Linked DNA regions of Homo sapiens: region 1 is linked to region 2. Evidence: fine-mapped expression QTL. A gene starts in region 2. The other region holds a variant in brackets. All regions are shown on one strand. Distances are from middle to middle.

Region 1 (11,951 bases), 270 kb before region 2:
TGCACTCCAGCCTGGGCAACAGAGCGAGACTCTATCTCAAAAAAAGAAAAAAAAAAAAAAAAAAGAAAGAAACACTGATGGATGCTCAAATCCCTGAGTCATCGGCTGGGCCTAGAATATAGCTCAGTGTCACCCAATTTCTGCTCTTTCATGCACTAGCCAGTCCACAAGCTGTCTCTATGGTGATGGCAAGGGAATTATAGTCAATGTAAGTGGACAGCCATACAGCCATACTGAGGGGCTGTAAAATCATCCTCTCAAACTTTTTTGAAGTGTTTCTGAATTTTAGAACACGTTATTCCAGCAAGGGTTCTGAACCTTTTCGGTGTCACGAGCCCCATGAGTCTGGTGAAGCCTGTAGACCCCTTCTCAGAACAATGTTTTTGTTGTTGTTGTTGTTTGTTTTTTTTTTTTTTTTTTTGAGACAGAGTCTTGCTCTGTCGCCCAGGCTGGAGTGCAGTGGCACGAACTTGGCTCACTGCAAGCTCTGCCTCCTGGGTTCATGCCATTCTCCTGCCTCAGCCTCCTGAGTAGCTGGGACTACAGGCGCCCACCACCACGCCCGGCTAAGTAGAGACGGGGTTTCACCGTGTTAGCCAGGATGGTCTCGATCTCCTGACCTCGTGATCCGCCCGCCTCGGCCTCCCAAAGTGCTGGGATTACAGGCTTGAGCCACCGTGCCTGGCCAGAACAATGTTTTTAAATGAATAAAATGAATAAAAGCACATAGAATTACAAAGGAAATGAATTACACTGATAATAGATCATCAAGATAATAAAAAAAACTGATAATAAAGTTATCAAATTTTTAAACTAATTTTTTTTTTTTTTTTTTGAGATGAAGTCTTGCTCTTGTCCCCCAGGTTGGAGTATGATGGCGCAATCTTGGCTCACTGCAACCTCCACCTCCTGGGTTCAAGTGATTCTCCTGCCTTGGCCCCCCAAGTAGCTGGGATTACAGGTGCCTGCCACCATACCCGGCTAATTTTTGTACTTTTAGTAGAGATGGGGTTTCACCATGTTGGCCAGGCTGGTCTAGAACTCCTGACCGCAGGTGATCCACTCCCCTCAGCCTCCCAAAGTGCTGGGATTACAGGCGTGAGCTACCGCACCGGGCCAAAACTAAATTTATTATATAGAAATATGTGTGCTTCCTTGGTTAATATATTAAATAGAAATATCTAGCAACATTTTGAAGTGATACTAGTGTAACTGTGTCCAGTATGGTGGTATCTGATGGCAATGCAAAAAGTAGCTTATAGGCTGATGGGATGGCAGATGTATAAAGAGATAAATGAATCGACTGAAGAAATATTAGAGTATGCACTCATGCTATAGAACACATAAGAGTCAGACACGCCCTCCCGGAAGAGGTCTGAGCCGAGCCTTTAAATCTCAAAGGTATTATCCTTATCTATAAATTAAATTGAATTTTTTCAATTAAGTAGGAATAGTCTCTGGATGACTAAGGAAAGAGATTAAGCAAAGATGAGAGAATACCTTCTAAAATTTTTTTTCTGGTGTTCCCAAAATAAAGGATTTTAAAGAAAGACAGACAAAATGTATGGTGTGACTTCCTTTGTAAAGTGGCTAAAGGAAAGGTACAACCAGACAAAGACACAGAGGAAGCATTTTTTGATTTTTAACATGCTAGATACCTTCAAAAATGTTTTTCCTTGCCCACAAGGGAAACAAATCAGCTCTCATCATATGTCCCATCTCTAAAGAGGCAAAAGGCTAAATGAAGGACAGTCATAAGACACAAGTTGAAATATCCTTCGACCACACGACTCCTGTTTTTGAAAATCACAACTTGGAATTGAGTCTTATGAAAATTTATCTCAGAGAAAATGCCACAACTATTAAGAGGAAAAGATCTTACATAAATCGAAAAAGAACGGATTATTAATGCCACAAATTAGAGAGTAATAGAACTGTGTTTAAGAAGTAGCTCCCTGCCTTCAAAGGCTACACCATACAAGTTGTTAATTAACAAAGTAACAATGGATTCCCACAACTGCTGTGGAAGTAGAAACTGATGGCCAGGAAGCCCAGGTGAGGGCATGCTCATTAGGAAATCTGCCATGCCCCTCTAAGAACAAACTTTCCTTTAAGGAATTTAAGGAGGAGAGAAAGCTGCTTTGTGGTCCTTGCTCAATCACTATTTATATCCAAAAAAAGAAAGAAAGAAAAAAGAAGGAAGGAGAAAGGGAAGAAAGGAGGAGGAAGGGCGGAAGAGGTAGAAAGGGAGGAGAAAAAGAAACATAAAATAGAGAAAGAGAAGGAAGGAAAGAGGGAGGGAGGGAAGGAAAGGAAACATTCAGAGCAAAATAGATGCTCACTAAATGTTAGCATTTCCTTAACAGCCTGCTTTTGGCATTGCATCATTTTGCAGGAGACGGACTAGTTCTTTCACTTTAAAATTATCTTATGTGCTGCCCAAAGGTCTCATATTGTCATGAAGAATTCTTGATAATTAGCAAATTTTCTGAAAGTTCAGCATCAGCTGATAATCGCAAATAATACAAATATACCATGGCCTTGAAATAATCAGAATCACCGTAAACAGCAGTGTTAGAAACATATTTCAAAGTGAAAGAATACACTATTCTCAGGAGATAATCACCAACATTCTTCCAAATCCTGATCAATGGAGGCAGCATTTTGCTACATGAGCAATAAACCAGGAAGACTCTGGATATATCATGTATAATGCTGGGCATTATAATCAAACACAACACAGGAAATAATCCCAAGTCTTTAATAATATTAATAATCATATTTAAATAGCAATTGGGTGTTAGTCATACAATTTTAGTATTGGTGAGAGCCTTGTGAATCAATCTCATCCCCCCTATTATTGTTGTCAAAACTAAAACAGTAAAGGAGATAGAAAAACCTAAGGGGGTGTTGGAAGATGAATTCTGGTGCAAAATCCTTTAATCATATTTTTTCAAATATATCAATCAGATTGCTTTCCTCACACTAAGAACTAAAGAAATGAGATTTTTTTTCCAACTGGGGAGGAGAGGATGGATGGAGGAGGTAAGGGTTGCAGGGCTCAGGACTATCTTTTTGAAAACAACATATATTGCCCAGCAATACTGCTTTTCTGATGCAACTTTGGCCACCTCCAGAGATGCTCAGTAGGGCTGTACTTACAACGAAGACCCTCTTAGTCTCAGGATTTATGTGCCTCCACGATGATTCCAAAGGGAGACAAATCAACTAAGAATCAATAATGTTAAATTAATCTTGGGTAAGCCAAGAGTTACATATGTCATCTAGAATGGCTTACATGGAACACCAGGACCCAAATGCAATTCCCTCAACACCCTCCTTATCTTGGTAGTGCTCACCACCTAGATAAAATGTCAGCAGCAGCCTGAACTCTAGACAATTTCCTTCATGGTGTTATCTAAAGGACCACCAAAAAGATGATCAGCTCCCATCCTTCCACAAAAGAAAAACTCTACCACTTAGTATTGAAGCTTTCAATGCAGTGTAGTGATCACGTGTAAAAGTAGAACTATGGAGTCAGACAGAATTGTGTTTGAAAAAGTCTCTCTTGTAACCAACTTGGGAAAATGACTTAATCTCTCTCTGTAGTTGGGGGAAAGATGTAGTGATATGTAAAGCACCACCATAAGGTTCAGAACATAATGAGTTCTCAATAAATGTCAGGTCCTCTCTCTTCTACTGAAGTTGCTCTTTCATTATTTTTGGGCTCCCTCTTCTCTAAAATCCCAACCCATGATGAAGGCTTTCAAGGCCTGTATATACTAATGGCTCTCCGAAACCTAAGATAAGCAGAACCTTGGGTTCCAGAATTCCTTAGTCCTGTCCGTAATAGAAGAATATAAAAATACGTCTCAAGCATCTGCATACTGACACAAAGCATTTTCAGGATGATATCATTGTTGAATTGAGACTTAATTAGTTTTGTGTGAACTTTGGGATCAAATAACATAACAAAATAAATTAACTGAGGCTAAGAAACAACTTTTTCACTTCATAAAAAGCTTTTTAAGTCACTCCAATGAGTCTTTGATTCAAATATAATGAAATTTCATGTTGAATCAATGATAGACCTTTTGAACTGTAATCTGCCAGAAAGTAGACAACTCAAAAATTGAAAATGGGCAGATCAAAGTTACACTGATAGGAATCTGTTAATGAACCATAGTGTGTTGTGTGGATAGGATTAGTGAGGACCTATCTGATTTACTGCATGAGGATATTAATGTGAAAGGTAGAAGCAATGCATATTAAATGATCACTAAGTGCTTCTGAAAGAATGCTTTGTAGCAATAACATTTAAATTCCTTTCATTTAGCCAAGATATATAAAACTGTGGAAATCCCTATTTATAGTCACACAGACCAACACTGGTTTAACAGGGAAGGCCACCATCTCATAACAGTAAATCCATAGCCCTATGGGCTTTAATTGAAAAAAATTATCACCTAGACACTAAATGAATTTGAAAGAAATAGAAGACTGAAATATTGCCTTTTAGATTGCTGACAATTCTGGAGGGTTGTTGGCTGGAAGGGCTGAACATCCCCAAATTGGCACCAGATTTTAAAACAACCTTCCAAGTGGTTTAATTGGTAGGCACACCAGGTCCTCAAACACAAGAATTTGCACATTTAAAGGCTGCCCCACAATGTTCCAGGAACCTAGTCATGAATGCAATAGTCAGTATAACACGTTCTCTTTGTACATTGGACCTGACATTCTTGTTTTAGAAAAGTAACTGAATCTATAGACCACTGGGCCAGCTGTTCTCCATCAGAGTGCACTCCTTCACTTAGCTCCTGTAGCATTTACTTGGTGTAGCTAGAATGCAGGCTCTCAAACCAGACTCACAACGTGGGTTTGAACACTTCTGCCTCTTCCTTTGCCTTTGCATGTTTCAATTTCCTTGTCTGCAAAAATAAATGTAATGATCATATCTAACTCACGGGGTTGATGTTAATATTTGTCTTAGTTTGGATTTCCCTAGAAGGAGACCCCAATACAAAGATTCCTGTGCAAGGGTAAGGAAACTATGCTGGGAAGAGAAAACAAACAGTCAATAAAGAATGGATTATCCAGCCAGCTACCATACTGGGTGACTGGAGCTTAATCCTGCCAGGAAATTCTGGGAATAGTATAAAACTCACATGTCTGAAATATCCCATCTGAGGAGCAAAGGAACTGGGATATCTATATACCGACTCATGTCAATCATTTTTAAAGTGCTCCCAGACAAAAGCATACCGGCTTTAAACAGTTTCAGAAAAATCCCTCCGAGATGCAGAGACTGGCTGCTGGAAGTCATCTAGCATACAATGATGTGGTGTAGCCCTAGAAATGTGGCCAGGGCTGCACAAATTAATGTCCATAAAGTGCATGGCACATACAGTGCCATAAATGTGTGTTTTTTTTTTTTACTATGACTATCAGTATTATTATTTTTACTACCCATGGAGGCATTGGCCAATGCTATTAGATATTTATGTCTATGTCCTGCTACCAGGACCCTTGTTGATGTTCCCGATACAAAAGCTGTTCTATAACATTTGATGCTCATACTCAAGATGATTCAGATTCAACCAGAAAGGCTCAGACTGAGAAATCAGCAGTTATTTGCTTTTGTACACTATGTGCCTATGAGATGAAGTGCAAACCACCACCAACCACAAACACAAATTCCTCTCCCAGGAACCACTGAGTCTTTACTCTCAGAAAAATCCATGCCTCTACCTTTGCTGCCATTATCAGGCATGGCCCTAAGAATCTCACAACAGGCTGTGGCTGAGTTTATTTAATCTGCATGCTATAGAGGTGTTTTATCCAGAAGTGATTATCTTAGGAAGTCAGTTAAGAAGTACTAGACATCACTCCTAAAAGTATCCTGATGCTTGCCAGAATATGGATTAAGAGTTTCCCAAAGGAGATAAGCAAACTCTAAAAATGTCCTCTTCTCAAGCTGCTGCTTTTATGAAATTCCTCATTGGCTACCAAGGGGGAACCTCAGATACTGATCATCTGGAAGCAGCAATCACTTATTGAGGCCACAGAAGCAAGATGACGTCAAATCCATGTATGGAGCATTTGTTTTGTGTAAGATAATTCAGACAATGGGCAATGGGGTAGGTGGTTGTGTGGGAGAAGTAACTAAGGTTTAGAAGACAGATCTGCTCAAGGAATCTGTAGACTCA[C/T]TAGGGAAAAGTGAATTAGTCACATTAAATACCAATTATTATAGATTTGTGCTTACTTTTGAATCACACATAATGGTAAGAGCAAAATGCTAAAATTTGTCACAAACCATTATGCATTGAATCATCACATGATTAGGCTGAAGTGGCCTGTGAATCAGGCTGCACAGGAATTGAGGCTTTCAAAAGGATATGATGAAGAGACTCCTAGTTGATTACGCAGCAGACATTCTCTCCTTCTTCCAGGTTTTTTCCTAGGGGACAAACTTGCCCAAGTAAAAGACTGTAGTTACCAGGCAGCCTCCCTTCAAGTCAGTGGTATCCAGTGAGTTGTAGACCCTTGGCCTTTTTGCCCTTTTTGACTTCCTTCATTTCTGCCTAGATATGATGTCAGGAGCTTACTAGGTCATCTTGGACCATGCAGTGACACTGACGATGGAAGCCATGTGCTAAGGATGCAATAACAGAGGGCAGAAATAGCTCAGGTCTCGGATGGACTATGGAGCCACCATATTGCATCCTGAGTACCTACCTCTGCATTCGTCTTTTACAAGATGCACATTTCCCACGCTTTAGCATCTTTAACAACAGGATGTCTTATAATCAATGGTGTTTTAAATTGCTCTGCACAAAGCAACAGTTTGTCCTGCACAAGTGTGAACAATGTACTCATTGCTATTTATATGGTCCTCACCTCAACTGAATTACGTCTAGTGCTGATACTACAAATGCTTAGCTTAAATCCCATTTAAATTGTCTTCCAAAAGATTACATCATGATTCAATATTGAAATGGAAAGTTACTGGTACACAGAAAAGCGTGGAAACAGAGCAGTGGGGTGTGAATTGCATATCAGCAAAGCAAATATTCATTGCTGAAGAAGTGAACACATTTTCATATCTGCTAGCAAAGGGACAAATGCTTTCGGGACCTAAGACAGGAAAATAGTAGCCATGTGCTACTAAGATACTTACAAAAGCGTGGCTTATCTCAGGCTAAGCAAGAAAAGTCCCAGAGTCAAAACTTGAAGAGTGGGTGTTGGGAGTTTGGAAGAAAATCTCAGAGACAATAGTGGGAACTCCTAGAGCTCCTAAGAATGCTGCATCACCAATGTTTTTGATGGCACAGTTGTTTGAACAGTTGTATGAACAACTGCTATGTGAACAAAAGTGGACATCAGTGATTCTGAGTCAAAAAGGCACTCAGAAGGGGTTCTGAATGCGATGAAGTTTTAGGAATACCTTAACAATTCTATTTTGCTTATATATCCGTTTTTACATATGGTCACGAGTAATACATGATTTTTACATATCTCTAAGTCTAAAAGAACTCTAAGTCTAGAAGAGACAATGAGGACAGAGAGGACAATTCAAAAACCATTTCTTTAAGTCCGTGATAAGATGAAGAGGGTCTGATAAAGGTAATAAGGAAGGAACGGCAACTACTTATACTTTAATATTTAAGTGGTACTTGGTGGAAGTAACCGCGTCAGCAAAATTAGAAGCTAAATAGCCTTAGGAAGAGTTGGGGGTTAAGAAAAGAGATTTTTCTTTCAGCAGGGTTAAAAGTAAGAGCATTTTAGAGGACTGTGGGCAGGATCAATTTTGACAGACCTGAAATTGGCATTTTAGCTGCTACTCACAGCTAGGAGCTCTTTCTTTCATTACGCTTTTATGACTCCATAATAAAAGGAGCAAAAGCAGAACTGCAAGTTACTGGTGCAAAGTGGTTATCTCTCAGAAACCAAGTTTGCAGCACACCATGGAGCATGAGGTGGCAGTTGGAAAAAAAACAGATTAGAAATACACAGAGCAACACAGACGGATCTTAACATCCCCAGGCTCAGAAAAAACACACAATGAAACATATAGCACAAAAAGATTTATGCAAATTGAAATGAATGTGTGTAAAACAATAATACACCCTTGCAAAAACGAATGCACACAGAAATATTCACACTAAACTCAGTAGAAAAATTACCTGGGCGTGTAAATGGGAGTGGCATAGGGGGATAAAGGGGAATGAATGAGTTACTCAGCCACATCAGGAAGTCTTCAATAATCAGTGATGATAAAGTGTCAGAAACTGATAAAACAATTAATCTGACTGATGCTCTCCCCACTCACAAAAAAGGTTGCAGTTTAAATTGGAAGTTCAAATCAGCACTGACATAAAGCTTCACTAAGATACTTTAAAACCCTGTTTTCCTAAAATTCAGGAAAGAAAAAAGGGGTGATATTCACATATTGTAGGACTATTGAATACTTGAGAAAAAAGGGAAGAAAAATGTTTAATGAGCACCTTTTAGAATTAATAAAATTTAGAATAAAAACCAGAATTCAAAGGTGATATTACTTGGTACCTTTTTGCCCCTACCCCCACGAACAGTAACGGAAATGTCATTATACCAAATGATTTTTGCTAATGATGGTTTTCATTTTATGGACTAATTCCTTCAGTAAAACTGAAAAACATAAAACTCATTAGTTTTAACTGGATTTATTTTGAAATCATTTCTATTTGACCATTAAACTATTCTTCTGCATTTCATTAACAAGAATGTTCTCAAATTTCATTTCTTCTGCTCATCTATTTTTAGCAAGTTAAATTCTGAAGTAATCTCATAGGGGTAAATTTCAGAAATGTGTCCTTAGGTTCTTACATCTTTGCTTTATTCTCTTCTAATTTCAACTCCAGAATCTCCCCAAAGTTCTATTGTCTTCAATTAAAGGAACACAGTCAAATGTGCCTCCTTTCCATCAAACTTGATCTCTAAAGTAAGAGTGCGGGGCACACAGATAAATAGATTAGCAGCTGGAGAAAGCACAACCCTTTTAGCTAGAATAAATGAAAACTGCAGCACCATAACAAATGCTCATATACTTTACTATATGGTGTTCAGCAGCATCTTCGGCATCTAGTCACTAGATGCCAGTAGTGACCTGCCCCCAACAAGGTCTCCACAAAGATGGTAAAATCACCCGATTGAGAACCGCTGCTATATTTTTGAAAAAGGTGCTGTATTGAAATCCACCAGAGAGCAATGGCTTGAGCATCCATTACATGCCTTCTGTTGTGGGAAGTACTTTTTTATGTTACCTCATTACAAGCTGTCTTAACAAAAACAACAACCAGTTATCAATGGCTGAGTGCACTGCCTCTATCCCCTTCTTCTAGTAAGACCTCTCAATTTTTTGCCTTGGATACAAACTCTTCCCTGTTAGTCATGTGAAGGTGAGGTTTGCCAGTCAGGGTGTTCCACTCTCTACTAGCCAAGGGGGGGATATTCTCTCTCTAATGGAAGAAAAGAAAGATAGAAAAAGGCTGATGTCATTATCCTCCTGAAGAATCCTTGCAAAGCCTTCCTGAGTTGCTGAACAAGGTCAGCCCTTGCAAACTGCCCTTGTTCTTGTCCTTGCTGATACATCTGTTCCTTGAATTGTTTGAGTGCCTGCATATCTTTCTAATAATTTCCTATTTTGGCCAAATTAGCCAGTTTGGGTTTTTGTTCTTTGCAATCAAAAGACCCCAAATGATTGGGCACCATTTACTGAGCTTCAGTATGGGCTGGGTGCTGTGCTGATGGCGTGTTGCACATTTCCTTACTCATACTCAGTAGATACTGATCAAGTGCCCAGTATGTGGCAGCCCCTCCTCTTGTTCTGAGAAGCAAACAAAAACAAATGCCTAGCTAGGCCTTGCCCCCAGGAATTTTGATTCACTGGGGCTGAGGTGAAGCCAGGTATTGTTTTATTTGTCAACAAAGTGCAATTGAAAACTTAATATGTACAAAGCAGTGTCTTTTGGCATTTAATCTGAAATCAGAAATGAAAACTAAGAGTAATTATATTTTTAATTAAAAGAAAACTGAGAATTAGATGTGATATTGTAAAGGCTAAAGCAGCTCCATCTTGGATGGAACCAAAGCAAGTAAAAATTGCTTCTTAACAGAAAACACATCTAGTATGTAAGTCCTACCCTTAGGTCAAACAACCTTGATGTTATTATACTTCGATGGTCCTACATATCCCTTCCGAATCACCCTTTCCCTATGGTATATAAGCCCTGGGTCTGGAGATAATGGCATAGGGATCCACCATCTTGTCTAGCCACCACTCGAGACACAGACATGGCTTCCGTTTGTGAGTGCCTATTAAATGTCTCTTTCTAAGAAACTGGATATGTTAGCCTCTTTCTTTTGTCTCTCTGCTACCTCAAACTTTGGGGGTAGGTTTGCATAGACCTGCCTACCAACGAAGATATACTATTATCATTTTTTAAAAGCTTTGCTGTCGACAACAATATATAGTCAGGCCCGAATCACAATATTCTAGATTAAGGATTGGCAAACTATGGTCTGTGCACACAAAATCTGTCCTGCTGCTCATATTTACAAAAAAAGTTTTATTGGAATGCAGCCACACTCACTCATGTACATATTGTCTATAGCTACTTTTGTTCTATAAGAGCAAAGTTAAGTAGCTGTGACGGCTTACATGATTTGCAAAGCTAAAAATATGTATTATGTGGCCCTTTACAGAAAAAGTCTACTGACCTATGAATTGCCCTGTTTAATTCTTGTAACAGCTCCATGAGTGACAACATCAATAGCTAGTGTATCTTAAACAATTATTATATGTCAGGTGTTAGGTTTACTGCCTTAAGTACCTTATTTCATTTATAGCCCTCAACAGTCACCCTACTAGGGAGGTGTTATTGGAATGCCTATTTTGCAGATAGAGGAATCTGAGGCAAGGCGAAGTGACTTTCCCATGTCCACACAGCTTGTAGATGGTGGAGCCAGAACTGAAACTCAGGTCCTTTGACTCTGGTGCGCAAGCTCTGTGGCATGTTCCACGGCTAGTAATAGAATAAAGTATGTGACCAGTTCCAGCATCAAGCACAATTGATGTCATATTTGGTCGCTTTCAAGCTGTGATAGGCAGAATAAGAGCCCCCAAAGATGTCTGCATTTTAACCTTTAAACTTGTAAATATGGTACATTGCAAGGCAAAAGGGACTTTGCATATGTAACTAAGAATCTTGAGATGGGGAGATGATCCCAGAGTATACAGGTGGGCTCAGTGCCATCACCAGATCCTGATAAGTCAAGGAGGGAGGCAAGAGAGTGAGAGTTAGAGAAGGAGATGTGATGATCGAAGCAGAGGTCTGAGTGATTTGGAGCTATGAGGCAAAGAACATTGGTAGCCTCTAGGCGCTGGAAAAGGTGAGAAAATGTATTCTCCCCTAGAGCCTCCAGAAGGAACTGGCCCTCCTGACACCTTGCTTTTAGCCCAGTGAAATCCACTTTGGGCTTCTGACCTCCAGAAATGTAAGACAATAAATTCCTGTCATTTTAAGCCAGTACATTTGTGGTAATTTGTTACAGCAGCCATAGGAAATTAACACATAAGCCATATTTTACTTATTTGCACCACACTTGAGTACACATAGAATTGCAGCAACAAAGGGGCTTATTCCAATCCAAGCTCATGGTTGGTTGGAGCTTCACTGAGTGCTACAATGCAGAGTTAGATGGGACTAAAGTTGAGAAATAGCCTCTGAGCTAAGTAACTACCTGTAAACCTGAGAAGAGGACTTCTGATATGGATTGCCCATATCAGTTACACTGGGTTCAGCATATCTTCCCCGAAGGCAAATACTAACCTACCCAGAGTGGTTGGAGGGAGAGAGGGCTGCATTGCCCCAAGGGCAAGAGACTGTGGTGAGGATATTTTTTAAATA
Region 2 (11,951 bases):
TTTTTAACCATCAATCACCAAATATATATATTATATTTTATATATATAATATATATATACTTCAAATGTAAAAACAGAAATAAAAGTTTATTCTCTGAGACCAAGTCCAAGAGCAGGCTATTTACTTTTAACATGTACATTGTATTCCGTTATATTCAATAAAGAAGTACTGACATGGTAATTGTTCAGCTAAACAAATATGACAATTTGTTTGCAACAAATGTTAGAATGAATTGTATATGACTTCACTCACTAATTATTTAGTATAGACTATTTATCTTATGCCAAATTCTGTAAACCATACTTGAAAATATATTTCTGAAAGAACAGTTCTGGCAGAAAACCCTTCTCATCTCTTTGCCAGGAAAAAAAAAAAAATGGGAATGTTAACTTTGTTATCTAAAACTAAGGCTTAGATTTCTTCAAGATAATTTTCAGAGCTTAAGTACATAATGACCTAAATTACTCAGAAGCAAGGCAGCATACTTTTGATATATGTTTTTGCTGTAAAGAACTAAAGGTAGTCTATGATTTCTCATTATAATGCTCTCAGTCAAATCATAGGAAAGTTAGATTAAACTCAACTCCAAATTGATACAGCCTACCTCCATTCCTCTGACTACAACTAAATCCACTTATCTGGTTTTATTTCCATTTGGAAACAGATTAGTGAAGGTCATTAGCCATTAGGACCAGATGGCTCAAGTGTACTGTAAGGAAATACTAGGCATTCTCCTGTTGACTTGATTATCAGTTCACCAGCACACATTGGTTGAGGCTATACAAGTAGTATCACCCATTCTTTTTCCATACATTTTGAACTGGATATTTATGGAAGGCAAACATCACCTTAACAAGCAACTCTCCAGCTCCCCAAAAATATCAGGTCAACTTAGTGACCAAAGAATAAGCATGCATAATTTTTCCAAGTGCAACAAATTAGTAGGACAATTATGTCCACTTCTAATGGTCAGTTTCCAACAGTTCAAGAAGTAATTTGAGATCAGAAGTTTCAATAAAGATAAGGTCTATATTAACTGGTAATGTGCATTAGTGAATTCAAGTATTTATTATAATATGCTCAATTTGACGTGTGTGCCCGCATGTGTGCTGATAATGATAAAGAAGCGAAAACAGGAAAAGGCATTGTTTAACCCAGGGGTCAGTGAATTCAAGTATTTATTATAATATGCTCGATTTGACATGTGTGTGCCCACATGTGTGCTGCTAATGATAAAGAAGAGAAAACAGGAAAAAGGCATTGTTTAACCCAGGGGTCAGTTAACTTTTTCTGTAAAGAGCCAGAGAGTAAATATTTTAGGCTTTGTAGGCCATAAGGTCTCTGTGGCATCTATTCAACTTTGCTGTTGTCAGGCAAATGCAGCCATAGATAATACATAAATGAATGGACATGTGTTCCAATAAAACTTTATTTATGGACACTGAAATTTTAATTTCATATTATTCTTTTTTTGATATTTTTGAACCATTTAAAAATAAAGAAACCATTCTTTGCTCACAGGCTATGCCATAACAGTCAGCAAGCCAGATTTGGCTCATAGGCCACAGTATGCCAACCCCTGTTTTAGCCTATTCATAATTTTCTTTTCCTGCTATGATTAGCTTTCAAGATTAAAGATCATTTGATGGTAACAGTGGTAGATTTCAGGACGGTATGCTTAAACAAAGATTTTAAACGGTCTTGAGTTTTCTTATTGAGCCAAGTGTGAAACCAGTGGTTTCAAGTTCATTCCTTAAAGATACATTTCTAGTTCACCAATAATGTACATTCTCTTACAGCTAAACTTCCACGGTTAACCTCAAATGAAATAACAAAGTACTAAAGTTGAACAGTGTATGTGTATGTAAAGGGGGAGAATGAACAGCTGGAAGGACCATAAGCAGAAAGTGAGACTTTCCAGGTCATGCATTTAAAGTACAAGTAAGTTTCACTGCAGCTGTCAGTCTGTACCAAATTCTGATAGCAAGAAGGTGAAACTCACTTGCCCCAGACAATAAGAGAGAGAGAGAGAGATGCTTGAAATGGTACAAAGCCTGACCTAGACGCCTTCTTCCCAGAACTGCGAGCGACTAGACTTTCACAGCTTCAAACTAGCAACTCTTGGGAAACTAGAGTTAAATATTCCTAAAACAGGAATCTAGTTCTGTTATGAAACTGTTCATCATTTCACCTCCTGACAGTCACAAAAATCAGCAGAACTTAGAAAGGATTCAGAAGATGAGCAAGTAGCATTTTTAATAAAATTCAAATCCAGAGTCTTTGGGGTTTTTTCATTGCTAGCCTCCAGAGCTCACTATTATCAGCAATATTAATACAATTACTCAGTAAAAATAGGGGATATGGGAAAAACCCTGACCTTTTGCATTACTTCTTTAACTTCCCCTTTTCCCTGGGAAATATTTAATTCTGAATAAGATAAAGGTAAAAGACAGAAGTTTAGTAGTATCTAAATGGACTTGACATAAAAATCTAAGGAAACTATACATATGTATTTTGTATTTTTCCTCAAATATAAGATACTTGTAAGAAAATTAGCATTCTAATATTAGATATTAGTCACTGCTATATACCACAAAATAACCCATGCAACTATAAGAAAATGCAAAGTAAAGCATTCCCCAAATTTACCTACTACTATAAGAAATCATCATATCAACAGTGGGGACTCAATCATTATCATCAAGTCTACCGTTTTGCTTAAAGAAAAGAAGCCAAATCAGGGACTTAATCTATGAACATATCACTCAATTTAATAACATCCCTATGAGTTTTGGATCTCAAATCATCTCCCTCTGGCAAAAGGGGCATAATCATATGTTTTTCTACTGGACTGCATTCTTCTATAAACATTTGAAAGAATGCATCTGCTTTACAAATAAAATAGTCAATACAAAGAGCAGTAACAATAAAAATATATGCCTGTTTTTATACTATTACTGGTTTATAAGGCAATCATCTGTAATGCTCTCATCTACAAGGATGGAAAATAATATAGAACTGTTACCAAGGAAACAGTGAAGTAAAACTGCATGTAAACTATCAAGCAGTTTAAGAACCAGAAAATTAGAAGAACGGGAAAAACCATCTTCAGATAGAACCATGACACACTGTGCCACCCACGAAGGATGCAATCAAGGGTCATAACTCTAACTGATGATGTAAAGGGTGCCAACTACTTACCAGCAATTCCAACACTTGGCAGCAATTTTTTTTTAATGGTACTGGGTTATTGAGGGGCACTGTCAATTCTGATTTTTCCCACGATTAAAAGGGTATAGATTCTGGAAACGAATAGTTAAATGTAGACACTCTAAAAAGTCAAAATATGCAGTTTATTTATTCCAGTGTCGAATAATATTCTCTTGGAATTCTCTGTAATTACACTGTCTTTACTCACAGATAGGACACTAAGCAAATATCACTTCCAAGATATGCCTTCTGAATTAACATTTAGAAGCTCAAGTTTGTAGGAACCAAAGGTAAGGCCAGGTACCCAGGGTAACTACATGTGTTTGCCTCTAAACCAAGAGAATTTTAAGCACTGAAGTAACCATGCTGATCAAAGCTAAATCCTTTAGGAAGATTATCCATTCTGAAATCAGGAAAATCCTGCAGTATAAGCACTTTCATACTTCACCTTTGAGAAAAGAACTTGCTTTCTGTAACAGTGTTTAAAACACATACAAGACTTTCTTCCTCCCAAGGCAGAAACAAGCAACTGCAAACATGTGTTTTTACATGCTGATGACCCTCTAAAGGTACTTCTATCTCAGCACGGGGACCATCCTCGGGCTCACACTAAAGAAAAAGAAGAATTCTATGGATGGAAGATTTCTTAATCGGCACATCAGCTCAGAACATTTGCACCTTCTGTCTTTAGAATAAACACTCTACTGGATCACATTAAGGATAGAAAGTGAAACTCACACTCATTTACTAAATTTTAAACTCTCTTTAAAATAAGATACCACTCTCCCCACAGCCTTGCTTGAGTTTTGCAAAAACTCAGATTTGTGAATATCATGTAGGCATCCTAGAATTTAGTAAAAAGAATATGAAACATCTTTTCACTGACACATGACACTGTCCTCTCCAAAGTTCCTAAGTTTAAGGACTAAATCGAGGCTCTAGATGTTTTGTTAAACTGTTTTTAGCATCTGAGGCCACCAAAAAGTATCCTGGTTACTTTGAACTATACTATTGGTTGAACTTCCCTTTCCCTTTAGCAGTATCTCTGTCCATCACACGGAGGGTACCACTTAGCCTCTAAACTTGCACACAGCTGCTTCCCAACCATGGTTCAATATTTGACAGCTGTTTAGAAACTAGCCCTAGGCAGAAGCATGCAGGAAGTTAATAGAATAGTGGTGTGAAGCAATGGCCCTCTATGAGATCAGCTTGAAAGCAAACAATTGGCCACACCACAATCATCCACTGCTTAACACATCAGTCTTCTGATCTGCAGGACAACACCTCTTCCTGAGCTGCTCTAAGACACAGGTATTTACCCATCAACTGCGTATCTCCAGTCTACTTAGAGTAAGCTGCACTGGGCCTTTCTGCCTGGGGAAATCTGCTAGTGGCATGAAGACTGACCCATGTTAGTAGAAAGGGAAGGTGGAGATGGGCAGGCAGAACAAAGACCTGTAGATGTCGGAGAGAATGGCAACATCCAAACAGAACCTTTCTGAAGTGGTCTAATGTAATTTAATAAAGCAAAGTCAACATACGTTTCTACCTCTGACTATTGGAAGCTGCTCATCCCTGCCTGATGCAATCAACACATCTCACTCTGACACTCAGGACTGAAGGAAAACCTGGGATTATTCTGTCCATATTGCAAGTAAGTTTTTAAGCTACATCCTGGAAAAACCCAACTGTCTACCTCCTACGTCCTGGTGGTAGCTGCTATAAAGAGCTCCAGGGGCAGAGAAGGTTGGGCATGGTTTTCTAAGACCACTCCTATTGGGCTCTTCCCAATTAATGCCACATAGCAAGCAGCACAAACCTTACTCTGTGGCTCAAACGAAGACTTTGGAAGCATAAGCAGGGCAGAAGACCTGGAGGAGTGCTCTGGCCAGGCAACACCTAGGCGGCCCAAGCGTGGAAATGTTCCTCTTTTATCAGTACTACCCAAAAATGTCTGAATCGATGATTTAGTTTTAGCTACTGTTTTAACAACATGGCCACTTAGAAGAAAATTTCTAAATCTTTCGAGGCTTAAGAATATAGTTACCCCCCCCCCAAAAAAAAAAAGGCTGAAAGTCTTTCTCTTCTATCTACATGACTTCGCCATCTAGGTTACCGTTGGGAGCACCTGGTCAATCTAGGAGCTGACTTTGTGGAGGTGTGGAGGTGTAATTTAGGAGTTGGGGGAAGGCGGCACTTTTGGTCTTTGCAGCTTGGAAGGCAGGCACCCAAGCTCCAAGCACTTCTGGGTTTCCCTAGCAGTAGCAATTACAACCATCTTCTCTTAGCCCTGAATTATACATGGGACCCCAAACACCGCTGGGGCTTTTCCTTAGGGAAAACAAACTGTCGTGAATGTCGGTGTGTTGGTGAGGGCATGTATGTACCTCTCTGTGTGTGGTCTACACCCGCCGCTACACAAGCCTCAGCAGCCAGTGAGAAATAAGTTGAACGTGGAAGCCCCCGGCCACTTCGTTTGTCTTAAGCCCCGTCGCGCTTTCCAGCTTTTGCCTCTACCCAGCCTCCCGAAAAATAAGGCACCAAGTTGCCCGCGGCAGCGGCCCTGGGTGCAAACGGAACCCGCGCAGCCCCTACCTCGAAAGCTTTGCAATCTTCACAAAGCTGAAGACATCCATGCAGGCAGCTGGGGACCCCCGAGCGCGACAACTCCGTCGCCCCTTCTCACGCCAGCAACAGCAGCCTCCGCAGCCCCATGGCCAAGACCTCAGTGCGCCCGGGGCTCGAGTCGCGGCGACAGCGGGTGGCGGCGGCGGCCGGAGAGAACCTGCACCTGGAGGCGGCGGCTGCTACCCCCCTCCGGCCGCGAGCTGCGTGTGCATCCCCGAGCAGGACCATTGATAGGCACCCGAGGCAGGAAAACTCAATGGAGAGGGAGCCAGGCAGGGCGCAAGAGGCGGGGGCGGGGAGCGCGGCCCGGGTCTCGCGCCCCGCCCCGTGCGCTCTAGCCCCGGGGACTGCCGGGCGTCCAGAGAAAGCGAGGCCTGGGCGAGAGGCGCTGCTCTGGCTTCCCGGCCCTCGGACCCTCGTGCCCCACGCACCGAGGAGCGCAGACGGAGCCGGGAGACGGCAGGCGAGCTGGGCACACGCGCACGCACCCCTCGCAGCACTGCAGCTGCCTCCCTGCCTCCTTCTCCAAGCCGAGTCCCTGCTCCTCTCCCCACCCCCACCCGCCCGGGGGGAGGGGGCACTCTCCTGTCACCCACTGCGTGTGCCTCTAGATCTGAAGGATCTGGTCTAACAGTCTATGGCACACTGGAGAACTGTGAACGCTACCCCTCCCTCCCCAAGCCGAAGGAGAGCCGTGCAACCGCAGGTTGCTCAAAGCCTCGGTTTGCTCCGTAAACAAAACTAGCGTTCGGAAGGAGCAGGGATGATTGAGGTTGGGTCGTTTGTCAAGGGGAAGGGAAGGGAGATGCCAGGCGCAGCGGGCTCGATTCGGGGAGCTCAGAGTTCCCACTGCTTCTCCCGAATCGCTGGGGCGAGACGTGACCACTGGGCTGGCTGGGAAGGTGTGTCTTTGGACAGCAGCACCGCGGGAGTGTCTGCCAAATAAGAACCGGAGGCATTTGCGGGTAGGGGGATGAACACAGCTGCTCCCTCCTCGAGGAGCATAGAGCGGAGGGTCCCAGGAGCCCGTGATGCGGAGGCTAATTCTAACCGGGCTCAGAATCTAAGGAAAGAGAAGGATTAGAATGGGGTCTGCCACGCAGAGCGAGCTGCTTTTGCACACTGAGCCTTGGGTGAAGGGAACAGGGAAGAAAAAAACAAAACAAAACAAAACCTTGCCGGAGAAGCAAAAACACAGAAACATAAACACTCACCTTAGGCAGAGTAAACTCCAAGTTGCAGCCATCTAGAACTCCTCCTAGCCTTCTCTTTTACATAATTACCTTGGATAATCAGCCCTGTTCATTAACTCAGTTCTACCTCCTGGGAGGCTCAGGCTTCATTGGGCCCCTTTTTCTTCTTCCTCTTGAAGTCTCAAGGCCTCTTCTCCACAATCCTTTAAAATTTCCCCCCAGACTGTGAAGGTCAGCTGGCCGCACTAAGTGTGTGCTCTCCCACCGGCAGCGTTCACCTGGCGGCAGGGCCACCGCAAAGAACAGAGAGCACCCCCAGAAATGTTGGAAGATCCAGCCAGTGTTCCAGTCTAGCTCTCCGAGGGGATTAAGAAAGAAATAGGTTTAAAGTTCCCACACTTCTGCTCCTCTCCTGGTCTGTTGTTATATTTAAAGTCTTCAGTATTCAAGCCTAGTACTAAAGCGTTTTTTTTAAGCATTTATTTCAAAAACTGAACATAAAATAAATAGCAATCTGCAAAATCTAAATGACTTAAAACTCAGGCATAAAATTACATGTTTTTGAATACATAGTTATCAGTTTTCCTGCAGCTTCTATTAAACAGGCTAGTTTAATTGCATGAACGCAGTTACTACTCAAGGATCGGAAGGGGCGAGAGGGACCTTGGCTTTTGAACTCTATTGTTTGTAAAATAATTATAGTTTGGGTCTGCACTGTGCTTTATAATTTTTAAAGCTTTTTTTTGCATTGGAGTCTCATCGCAACCTTTTCATATAAGGCAATATATTTAGAAATCTTTTATTTTTATGCCATAATCTATTCTCAACATACCAGACAAAAAGATGTTTTGTGTGTGTGTATGTGTGTGTGTGTGTGTGTGTGTGTGTGTGTGTGTTTTAACGTAGATCACATAAGGCTACTTGTCTGATCTAAAATATGTAAAAGCTCCCCATTGTCCGTCAAGCTAAAGTTGCGCTCCTGCAAGGGCCAACAGGACCCTAGATCCCGTATCCTTTGATCTTTCTTACCTCAACTATTACTGCCCACTTCCCTCTCCCGTTTTTCTCTGTCCCTCCTCATCCCCTACCCCGAGCCCCTCCTCTCTCACACACATACACTCACTGGGCTCCAGCAATTCTGGACTTCTTGCTATCCTTCAAACTCTACAGGTAATCTTCCCACCTTAGGCTCTTTGCAATGGTTGTTCCCTCAGCCTGGAATGCTCTTTCCTGGGATATCTGCATGGCCGGCTTCTCCACCCTGTCAAATGTATGCACCAATACCACTTCCAAAATGCCCCCTCTAGAAAGCCAATTTAAAATTGCAAAAGGTTCTCACACCCTGGACTCCGAGTCCCTATTAACTGTTTTATTCTTTTTTCTTGTTTCCATAGCATTTATCACCCACTAGCACACTATATAATTTATTTTTATCTTTAGGATTTCTTTTTTTTTTTTTTGGTCTGAATCTCCCACTGGAGCTCCACAAGGGCTGGGATCTTTGTTTTGTTTTGCTTTTGTTTTTCACTGATGGATCTCAAATGCCTAGACCACTTCCCCAGATGTAGAAAGAACTTAAGAAATATTTGTTGAACGAACAAATCATATGCCCATTGGATTCACAGCCAAACCAAAGCTGGCCAAGCATCCCCAGTGAGTACTGATCTGTGTATGACTTCGTGGCTTACATCTGTCTCTTTCCCCACCCATCCACTTCCCCAGCATCCTTCAACCTCCTTTGGACTGACTGTTAATGATGGCAACAAAGGCCTTCTTACATTCTCCAGTTATTTTCCCCCTTCACCTTTTCTACCTTTCCCCCAAAAGAGTGGCCACCGACACGTTCCCTCATCTCTGAGTCAACATCTGGCAGCACAAGACCAGCTCGTGATTGGGAAAAGGGGATAAAACAGTGCCTTTGGAGAATGTGTTTTGAAAAAGTGCTTCCTTCTGAGAAGAGAACAGTTGGGATGCTCTTTTTAAAAGGATTACCCTATTTATCAATAATTATTCCAGATACCAAATATCTAATTATTCAACAGTGAAAGTGACAGGAAATAGACATTGTGTTTACTTCTAGAGAGACAGCCTCCCTTGGAGACATCTGGTCTACCTGGAACAGCTTGCTGTTGGCCTTCTCCCTGTGCCAATTTGTGCGCTACGGTTATGAATGATGCAGATGCCATCTCTCCACAGCATAATAGCTACCAAGGGAAATGACTGACTTCTACAGGTCTTTACACACCTCTCATATAGTAATTATCTAGTATGTTTTCTAATGGATTGATATTGTTTTCTAAAGCAAAGAGATTCCACCCCTCCTCCTTTGTTTCTCATTAATACAACAATGGAAAAAGCTGCTCCCTTGAAACATGCTAACACAGAGTGTTTATATCTTTAAGCCATCTTGGCAGAAGGGCAGAGATTGGAGTAGTTGGTCTCTCAGCTCTGTCCCCTCTCTGTGCCAGGTGTGTGCTGCAGAGGTTAGGATAGGTTTGTCTAGCATGAACTAGATCTGCCTAAAACAAATAAAAGCCAAAAAAGTGGGATCCTGAGTACATATGTGGTTTTCTGAAGTTTTCTTATTAACCTGGATGATCTCTAAGGCCCCTTCTGGATCTTGTAGGGATTTACTAGTTGGAAACTGTATTATCCAACCTTGAGAATCTACTTAATTTGCTTTACTTAGGTTCAAGTGACATTTGGTCATTTCTGAAAACCAGACACACTTTCAAACACTGTTGAAAGTACTCATGAATAAAAGACTCAGGGTCACCAGATCCAGAGCAAGTCCTATAACTTCTCTGAGACTCAGTTTCCTCAGCTGTAAAATGGAAATAATACATCTTTACCTTACACAAAATGAGCACTTGAAGTTGGCACCAGTTTACAGTTGGCTACATATGAGTTGAGGCACATGAATATTAGCTCTAGAAGGATTTCCACAGCTGTCTGCAGCCTTGGCAGTACTGGTAGGAAAAGTTTCAGCCTGTAAGATGACTATTTAGGAGGCCCAACATTCGCTTGGATTAATCAGAGGTAGGCACTTTTGCCTAAAAATCAAACACTTTGTTGCCTGGGCAGTTACTAAAGCCCTAGGCTGTAGCATTTTTTATGCCCCGGGGGATTCTCAGGGGGAAGTGTGAGGAGCTTCATCATTCTTAAGGCCTTATCTAAAGCTGGTGTTAGGAATCTGCTATTGGGCCAGATGTTCCATATAGGTTGGCAGCTGAGGGTTCTTTCGCTGCAAGTTACAATAGAGAGAGCCCCAAGCATTTCTCAGCTGGACTGAAGCATCTCGACCATCTGGTCTCAGTCCTGAAAACAGAAGTAAATAAATAACAGCAAGGTATCCATTCAATCAGCAAATATTTATGGAGTGTCTCCCATGTACCAGGCACCACTGTAGGCACTGGGAAATAGACTAGGCAACAAGGCAAGTTTCTGTTCTCATAGAACTTATGAAGAGGAGGTAGATGATAAACAACAAAATCAGAAATTGTAGTGAACAAGAAAATAGCAGATAGCAATGTGCAGAGAATTAAAATTCTTCTGATGGAAAGGGAGTGGCTAGGTGGCTATTTGTTATTCAGTGGTTCAGGAAGACTTCTATAAGGAGGTGACATTTAAACTGAGATATGAAGAACAAGAAGGAGGCTGCCACACAAAATTCATATGGAAGAGCATTCCATGCAGACGGAACGGCAAGGATAAAACAAGGATGGAGTCCTTGAGGCAGGAACGATGATTGTATGTTTGAAGAATCCGAAGGCAGCCACTGTGACTGAAGAGTAACGCGTTAAATGAAGTGAGAGTGAGCGAATTTGCAGGGGCAAGAAGGGTGAGATCACATGGGGCACAGTAGGCCAGTGTCAGCTGTCTGGCTGGTATGAGACGGGAAGCCATGTGAGGATTTTTAGCATGGAAGTGGCCAAATCTGACTTATGTTTTGAATGACCACTCTTGAGGGAAGTGAGTGTGAGGGCAGGGAAACTACTGATTTAGGAGCCTGTTGCAAGAATCCAGGCAAGAGCTGGCAGCAGCTCAGAGAGGACATGACAAGGAGGTGGTGAAAAGTAGCCAGGCTCAGGATATGTTTTGAATAGGAACAGTTGATGGGTTAGATGTAGGAGGTGGGGAAAGAGAGGAATAAGGGAAAACTCATTTATTTGTATTATTTACGAAATACCCTAGTTCGGTCAGGCGTGGTGGCTCACGCCTGTAATCCCAACAGTTTGGGAGGCTGAGGTGGGAGGATCACTTGAGCCCAGGAGGTTGAGGCTGCATTGAGCTCTGATCATGCTACTGCACTCCAGCCTGGGGAACAGAGTGAGACCGTATATGAAAAAAATAAAGAAAAGAAATGCCCTGGTTCCCTTATCTAGATATAGAACATACAAAAACCAGAAGGGTTTCGCTGGGTGCAGTAGCTCAGGCCTGAAATCCCAACACTTTGGAAGGCTGAAGTAGGAAAATTGCTTGTGGCCAGGAGTTCGAGACCAGCCTGGGTAACATAGTGAGACCCCATCTCTAAAAAATAAAATAAAATAAAATAAAATAAAATAAAATAAAATAAATTTTTAGAAACCAGAAGGGTTTTACCTCCCACTGGCTAAAGTACTCTGCCTTTCCTCCTGTTCCTTTTAATGAACTCCACTGCTCTGAAAGCTGGCCCTCCTGTGATTCTCCTCTCTCTTGCCTGCTCAAGGCCCTTAATCTAGCACTTACTGTCTCTTTTTCCTATATCAGTATTTTTTTTAATCAAACTGTTGGACCATTCCCATGTGCATTCAAACATGATGCTCTTTATCCAACCTTTAAAATATTTCTTAATTCCCACCACATCTCCTGTCAGCTAAATCCCATTTTTCTGCTTGCCTTTATAGCATATCTTCTCCCAAAAGTTCTCCATTTGCTAT

What was found. PIP is the estimated chance that this variant, and not a neighbour inherited with it, causes the effect.
Region 1: its variant is fine-mapped to the expression of FRMPD4 in fibroblasts (GTEx, PIP 0.97).

What each region holds. Positions count from the first base shown.
Region 1 is chrX:12,406,464-12,418,414 of GRCh38, reverse strand. All of the region lies in intron 1 of FRMPD4 (FERM and PDZ domain containing 4), which reads right to left. Among named protein-coding and RNA genes, the nearest start is that of FRMPD4-AS1, 37 kb to the right of the region's middle. The variant C/T (reference allele first, on the strand shown) is at 6,210.
Region 2 is chrX:12,132,868-12,144,818 of GRCh38, reverse strand. It overlaps FRMPD4 (FERM and PDZ domain containing 4), which reads right to left and starts at 6,346. Exons shown (of 17, transcript NM_001368397.1): 1 at 5,807-6,346. The coding sequence starts at 5,847.